Linked DNA regions of Homo sapiens. The main gene of each other region encodes a partner of the protein of the gene in region 2 in a complex. Each region holds a gene or a part of one and is shown on either strand. Other genes may lie near its edges.

Region 1 (3,913 bases), on a different chromosome or scaffold from region 2:
ACCAATACGTCCACCTGCAGCCACAAGGCAGTGAATTTGGCCCAAGAAGGAAGCCCCTGCCCTCATTCTGGGCAGAACTTCTAACCTCATCCTTGTCCAGTGACTCTTATGAGGGAGCTCTGCTACAAAACAAAACTTGATTCTATTCCTCTGCTTATAACAGACCCCTATCTGCCCATCTCACTTAAACGATCAATAACTGCATTGCCCATTGACCCAGAGGCCAAGGCCACGGCCTCACCAGGTCCCCACCATGTTGTGCTGCACAAGGTAGCGAATGGTCTCACGGATGCCTGAACTGATGAGGTTGGATGTATATCCCAGGAAAATGGTGCAGCTGGTAAGTGGGCGGCGGCTCTGGGTCAGGTCCGCGTGCTGGTCTTCATCCTGTGACAGTGGTTCCAGCTTCTTCTCGATCTGTGAGTAAGGGCCAAGTCAAGTTAAGCACTGGCCTTAAATCCCAGACTCAGGACTCCAGGTGGGCTCCAGAAACAGATTTCACCCCAGGCCCTGCACATTCAGGGATACAGGACCAGTTCTACAGGGGACCAAGGAACATCTCCTGTGTAAACTCTGCCCCTTCCCAGACCAGATCTCAAGACACACGTTCAGGATTTGCCCCCACCCTTTTTTTTTTTTTTTTGGACGGAGTTTCACTCTTGTTACCCAGGCTAGAGTGCAATGGCGCGATCTCGGCTCACTGCAAGCTCCACCTCCCGGGTTCAAGCGATTCTCCTGCCTCAGCCTCCCGAGTAGCTGGGACTACAGGCGCGCACCACCATGCCCGGCTAATTTTTTGCATTTTAGTAGAGACGGGGTTTCTCCATGTTGGTCAGGCTGGTCTCGAACTCCCGACCTCAGGTGATCCGCCCGCCTCGGCCTCCCAAAATGCTGAGATTACAGGCATGAGCCACCGTGCCCGGCCTTTTTTTTTTTTTTTTTTTGAGACAGAGTATCGCTCTGTCACCAGGCTGGAGTGCAGTGGCGCAATCTCAGCTCACTGCAACCTCCACCTCGCGGGTTCAAGCGATTCTCCTGCCTCAGCCTCCCGAGTAGCTGGGACTACAGGCGCGCAACACCATGCCCGGCTAATTTTTTGCATTTTAGTAGAGACAGGGTTTCACCATGTTGGCCAGGCTTGTCTCGAACTCCTCTTCTCTTGATCCACCCGCCTCGGCTTCCCAAAATGCTGGGATTATAGGCATGCGCCACCGCGCCCAGCCAGCCCCCACCCTTTTAGGAATCAGAGAGCATCTCCTTTCAGATCCGGTCCCTTCCCCGCTGGGAAAAGCAAATCTAAATTCAAGAACCGCCCAGACTTAGGCTCCTCCTCCCATATCCTCCCTTAATTTGTCTTGCCCCAGGCTCCGCCCATTCCAGAAAGCTTTAAATGTACCTAGAACCCGCCCCCACACCAAGAATCAGTCCTCGCCTCCTCAGGTTACCGTACCAGCATGTAACTACCAGAGTGCAAAATCCCCTTCCCAGGACAGAAACTCCCGCCCAGAATAGGTCCCGCCTTCCTCCAACTATTGGGCAACTCAAATAAAAGACATATCCCCTCCACTGGAAACGCTGCCCCCGTCTAGTACCGCGTTGGTTCTACAAGCCACGCCCCTCCGCGTCCCTAGAAATTCCGCCCGGTCCTCACCATGGCATTGACTTGCTGTACAGCGCGCCCGAAGTTGGTTGCTTGGAAGCCGGTGGTGCCGAAGGCCTCCAGCAGTGCGCGGTAATTCACACCGCGGTTGAAGTCGTAGCCCCGGACCTGGGTGCTTTCGGGCGGCAACGTCGAGCTGTGCTTTAGCACGGCGGCCAGCGCCCCCGCTGGCGCCTCCCGTTCCAGGGAACCTTCCATGCGCCTATAGCCGGCTCTCGAGTCAAAGCTGCCCCTAGGCCGGGCTTACGGCGGCCCAGAAACGCGTTAAACCCCGACGCGCGCGTCTCCGCAAGAGCACAGGAAGTAGGGAACGTGCTTTGGGCGAAAGACCGGAAGTTGGTTTATCACGTGACCATTTTTAGCCCCTGTAAACCAGGTCGCCGCCATTTTTGTGCGTGTGTTCCGTAATACGGAAGCCGCGAGGAGCCTTTAGGCCCTTTCTTTCTTTTTTTTTTTTTTTTTTTTTTTGAGACGGAGTCTCGCTCTGTCACCCAGGCTGGAGTGCAGTGGCGCGATCTCAGCTCACTGCCAGCTCCGCTTTCCGGGTTCACGCTGTTCTCCTGCCTCAGCCTCCCGAGTAGCTGGGACTACAGGCGCCCACCACCACGCCCGGCTAATTTTTTTGTATTTTTAGTAGAGACGGGGTTTCACCTGGTCTCGATCTCCTGACCTCGTGATTCGCCCGCCTCGGCCTCCCAAAGTGCTGGGATTACAGGCGTGACCCACCGCGCCCGGCGCCTTTAGGCCTTTTCTTCCTTTTTTTTTCTTTTTTTTTTTTTTGATACAGGGTTTCGCTCTTGTTGCCCAGGCTGGAGTGCAATTGCCCGATCTCAGCTCACCACAACCTCCACATTCCGGGTTCAAGCGATTCTCCTGCCTCAGCCTCCCGAGTAGCTGGGACTACTGGCATGCACCGCCATGCCCGGCTAATTTTGTATTTTTAGTAGAGGCGGGGTTTCTCCCTGTTGGTCAGGCTGGTCTCGAACTTCCGACCTCAGGTTATCCGCCCGCCTCAGCCTCCCAAAGTGCTGGGATTACAGGCGTGAGCCACTGCGCTTCGGCCTTTACTTGTTTTCATGTGTTCTCGACTTCCCATGAATGAAGATTCTTTTTTATTTTTATTATTTATTTATTTAATTTATTTTTGAGACAAGAGTTACACGCTCTTGTTACGCAGGCTGGAGTGCGGTGGTGCAATCTTGACTCATTGCAACCTCTGCCCCCCTGGTTCAAGCGATTCTCCTGCCTCAGCCTCCCGAGTTGCTGGGATTACAGACACCCACCACCAGGCCTGGCTAATTTTTTATTTTTAGTAGAGATGGCATTTCACCATGTTGGCGAGGCTGGTTCTGCCCTCAGGTGACCGCCCGCCTGGGCTTTCCAAAGTGCTGAGATTACAGGTGTGAGCCACCGTCCCCAGCCAAAATTCCTATTTTAATGCCACCTGCTGGAGACCCACTGCTTGGCCCGGCACTCGCCCATTCGTTTCTGTTCTGTCCCCTCGGGAGGGGAGGATGGTTTTGTTGTTGTTGTTGCTGTTTTGTTTGTTTGTTTGTTTGAGCTAGAGTCTTGCGCTGTCTCCCAGGCTGGAGTGCAGTGGCACGATCTCGGCTCACTGCAACCTCCGCCTCCCAGGTTCACGCCATTCTTCTGCCTCAGCCTCCCCAGTAACTGGGACTACAGGCGCCGGCCACCACGCCCGGCTAATATTTTGTATTTTTAGTAGAGACGGGGTTTCACCGTGTTAGCCAGGGTAGTCTCGATCTCCTGACCTCGTGATCCGCCCGCCTCAGCCTCCCAAAGTGCTGGGATTACAGGCATGAGCCACCGCGCCTGGCCTGCTGCTATTTTTTGATAGGGTCTCACTCTGTCGCCAGGCTGGAGTGCTGTGACGCGATCTCGGCCCACTGCAACCTCTGACTCCCGGACTCAGGTCATCCTCCCACCCCAGCATTCCGACTAGTGTGCACCATCGTGCCCAGCTAATTTTTTTATGAGGGTCACTTTTTTTTTTTTTTTTTTTTTTGAGACAGAGTCTCGCTCTGTCGCCCAGGCTGGAGTGCAGTGGCGCAATCTCGGCTCACTGCAAGCTCTGCCTCCCAGGTTCATGCCATTCTCCTGCCTCAGCCTCCCGAGTAACTGGGACTACAGGTGCCCGCCACCACACCCGGCTAATTTTTTCTGTTTTTAGTAGAGATGGGGTTTCACCGTGTTAGCCAGGATGGTCTCGATCTCCTGAACTCGTGACCCGCC
Region 2 (3,913 bases):
GAAGTGCCTTCTAATACAATGAAGTGCTTTTCTGGTATTCATGTTAAAAATGCATGACCCAAAACTGAGGGGCATTCTACAAAATAGCTCATCTGCACTCTTAAAGGAGACTAAAGAAACACAACAACCTGTCTCTATGAAAAGCACAAAAATAAATAAGTAAATCAGCCATGAGCAGTAGCACGTGCCTGTAGTCTCAGATACTTGGGAGGCTAAGGTGGGAGGATGGCCTTGAGCCCAGGAGGCGGAGGTTGCAGTGAGCCGAGATGGTGCCACGGTACCCCAGCCTGGGTGACAGAATGAGAACCCGTCCTTTTTTTTTGAGACGGAGTCTTGCTTTGTCACCCAGGCTGGAGTGCAATGGCACGATCTCAGCTCATGCAACCTCCACCTCCTGGGTTCAAGCGATTCTCCTGCCTCAGCCTCCTGAGTAGCTGGGATCACAGGTGCCTGCCACTATGTCCAGCTAAATTTTTTGTATTTTTAGCAGAGACAGGGTTTTGCCATGTTGGCCAGGCTGATCTCGAACTCCTGACCCCATGTGATTCACCCACCTTGGCCTCCCAGAGTGCTGGGATTACAGGTGTGAGCCACTGTGGCTGGCCTGCGAACCTGGTCTTAAAACAAGCAAGCAAACAAGCAAACAAACAAAACTCATGACAGTACAACATGTGAACCTGTGCCCAGGTCGGGGGGTGGTTTGGGTGGGGTATAGTTCAAAGGTTATTGGGATAATATCTAAAATGTGAATATAAACTGTGCATTAGATACTGAATCAGTATTAAGTTTCTTGATTTTGAAAACTGTACTGTGGTCATGTTAGAGAATACTCTTAAGGCAGGGTTTTTCAACCTCGGTATGACTAACATTTTGGGCTGAGAAAGTTTCTGTTTGGAGGGCTGTTCTGTATATCGTAGGATTTTTAGCAGCATCTCTGGCCTCTTGATGCAGGGAGTACCCCTACCCCTCACTGTGACAACCCTGCCACATGTCCCCAGGGAACAACAGGACCATGGTTTGAAGTAAAGACATACTGAAACAAGGTGAAGGGGTGTATCTACAATTTACTCTCAAATGACTCAGAGTGCGTGGGAGTGCCCACACACATGCACACAAAGAATGATAAAGCAAATGGGGCAAAAGATAAAAAATCGGTGAGCCTGAATCTGGGGTAAAGGGTATTTAGGAGTTCTATCTGGCGGTTCTACAAGAGTGTTCCAGAGACTCCTATGGGTTCCCTCTAGAGGATCTGAGAGGTCACAGTACATTTATTATACTACTATGACATTTTCATCCTTTTCAGTCACGAGTGAAAAGAAGATTTTTCCAGATGCAATATGATGAGTGATGATGTGTACATGAAAATGTGACACTTGGAATATCTGTGTAACTCAGTGAACCAGTATTTTCCAAATACGCTAAAAAATCATGCATGAGTATGAGTGCAAGGTAGACTAATGGATTTTAACGAAATAGTATCAAGAATTCACTGATATGATTTCAGATTCCACACTGCAATTAACCTTTAAGAAACCACCACTTGTTTAAACTGGGGGTAGGATCAAAGAATAGCCACAAGTGGCTGAAAAGACTACTAAAATTTCCCTCCTTTTTCCAGCTACATACCTGTGTGAAGAGTTTTCCTCTGGCCATACCACCCTGAACACGCCCGATCTTGTCTGATCTCGGAAGCTAAGCAGGGTTGGCCTGGTTAGTGCTTGGATGGGAGGAATAGATCTTGAATTTCATAAATAGCACTCAGACATCTATTTTTAGGCTTATTTGTAAATGTCTTGATAAAATGTCTGATTACTGTTACATACTAGGGAAAAATCTCACTTTTTTGTGTGTTATGCTTTTAAGCATAGATTTTGTTTGCTAAAATGTTATTTAGAATTTTGCATGTATTTTTCACTGGCTTGCGATTTTTCTTTTTATATAACATCTTTTTTAAAGGGTCTTTATTAATATTGCACTCAAGTTTTCTTCTGTTTTCTATGCTCTGAATTCAAGCAGTTAAAATCCATGGGAAAGAGTTTTCCTTGACATTTTTGAAGAACTATGCATGTAATATTATATTGATTATTAAATTGATTAAAGCCTGAAAAAAAAAAAAAAAAGAGTTTTCCTCATGAACTTAAACCAAAACAACATATTTGACAGACTGAATGCAGAACCAGATGAGAATCCAACTGTCTTCTATTAAGCCAGACATTAAAGAGACTTGCAAAAATGAAAACAATGCCACTCTTCTCACTAAAAGGTTGTTTTTCGTTTTGCTTTTTTTAAAGACAGGGTCTCACCCTGTTGCCCAGGCTGGAGTGCAGTGGCGTGATCACGGTACACCGCAGCCTCAATTTCCTGGGCTCAAGAAAATCTCCCATCTCAGCCTCTTGAGTGGCTGGAACTATAGGTGCACACCACCATGCCCAGCTGATTTTAAAATTTTTTGTACAGATGGCAGGGCACAGCAGCTCACACCTGTAATCCCAGCACTTTGGAAGGCCGAGGCAGGTGGACCACAAGGTCAGGAGGTTGAGCCCATCCTGGCTAACATGGTTAAAACCCTGTCTCTACTAAAAATACAAAAAAATTAGCCAGGCGTGGTGGCGGACGCCTGTAGTCCCAGCTACTCGGGAGGCTGAGGCAGGAGAATGGCGTGAACCTGGGAGGCGGACCTTGCAGTGAGCTGAGATCACACCACTGCACTCCAGCCTGGGTGACAGAGCACGACTCCGTCTCAAAAAATAAATAAATAAATAAATAAATTTCTTTTTTGTACAGAGTCTCACTATGTCACCAGGGCTGGTTCCAAACTCCTGGTGATCCTCCTGCATTGGCCTTCCAAAGTGTTGGGATTATAGGTGAGAGCCATCATGCCTGGCCTCACTAAAACGTTTTTATTGTAGAAAATAAACTTATTCTTAAGAAAAACATGTAATTTATCTTAACATGTAGTGGGTTTACTATTTAAAAATTAATTAATACATTTTAAAGTTTCATATTGTAGGCCGGGTGTGGTGGCTCATGCCTGTAACCCCAGCACTTTGGGAAGCCGAGGCGGGTGGATCACCTGAAGTCAGAAGTTCAAGAGCAGCCTGGCCAACATGGTGAAACCCCATCTGTACTAAAAAATACAAAAATTAGCCGGGCATGGTGGTACACACTTGTAGTCTCAGCTACACGGGAGGCGAGGCCGGAGAATCATTTGAACCCGGGAGGCAGAGGTCGCAGTGAGCCAAGATTGAGCCATTGCACTCAAGCCTGGGGGACAAGCGCCAGACTTCTCTCCAAAAATTAAAAAAAAAAAAGTTTCATATTGTAAATAACAATAGATATAACCTACGTAACTAAAAAAAGGTGTGTGGGTCCTTGACTTTTTTTTTTTTTTTGAGACAGAGTCTCACTCTGTCACCCAGGCTGGAGTACTGTGGCAAGATCTCGGCTCACTGCAACCTCCACCTCCCAGGTTCAAGCGATTCTCCTGCCTCAGCCTCCAAGTAGCTGGGATTACAGGTGTGTGCCACCATGCCCAGTGCATTTTTTGTATTTTTAGTAGAGACAGGGTTTCTCCATGTTGGCCAGGCTGGTCTCGAACTCCTGGGCTCAACTGATCCACCCGCCTCGGCCTCCCAAAGTGCTAGGATTATAAGTGTGAGCCACCATGCCCAGCTGGTCCTTGATAATTTTTAACAAATGTAAAGGGATCTTGGCTGGGCGCAGTGGGTCATGCCTGCAATCCTAGCAATTTGGGAGGCTGAGGTGGGTGGATCAGTTGAGCCCAGGAGTTTGAGACCAGCCTGGCCAACATGGCAAAACCCTGTCCCTACAAAAACATACAAAAATTAGCCGGGCATGGTGGTACACGCTTGTAGTCCCAGCTACACAGGAGGCAAGGCTGGAGGATCGCTTG

What was found.
Region 1: the proteins of MAPK1 (region 2) and DHPS are in contact, whole or in part, in a cryo-EM structure (PDB 8PVU), measured with the Homo sapiens proteins. Residues at the interface, in NP_002736.3 of Homo sapiens: Tyr113, Tyr187, Ala189, Thr190, Arg191, Trp192, Arg225, Lys231, His232, Tyr233, Leu234, His239, Lys259; in NP_001921.1 of Homo sapiens: Arg159, Glu160, Asn161, Asn164, Asn173, Glu174, Tyr176, Cys177, Glu180, Asp181, Met184, Asp188, Asp243, Phe247, Tyr250.

What each region holds. Positions count from the first base shown.
Region 1 is NC_000019.10:12,679,909-12,683,821, forward strand, and holds the start of DHPS (deoxyhypusine synthase), read right to left. Parts: upstream 1,973-3,913; 5' UTR 1,859-1,972; coding exon 1,652-1,858; intron 1,463-1,651; exon of another isoform or gene 1,206-1,462; coding exon of another isoform or gene 1,125-1,205; intron 418-1,124; coding exon 253-417; intron 15-252; coding exon 1-14. UniProt on the Homo sapiens protein: Catalyzes the NAD-dependent oxidative cleavage of spermidine and the subsequent transfer of the butylamine moiety of spermidine to the epsilon-amino group of a critical lysine residue of the eIF-5A precursor protein to form the intermediate deoxyhypusine residue.
Region 2 is NC_000022.11:21,790,793-21,794,705, forward strand, and holds part of MAPK1 (mitogen-activated protein kinase 1), read right to left. Parts: intron 1-3,913. UniProt on the Homo sapiens protein: Serine/threonine kinase which acts as an essential component of the MAP kinase signal transduction pathway. MAPK1/ERK2 and MAPK3/ERK1 are the 2 MAPKs which play an important role in the MAPK/ERK cascade.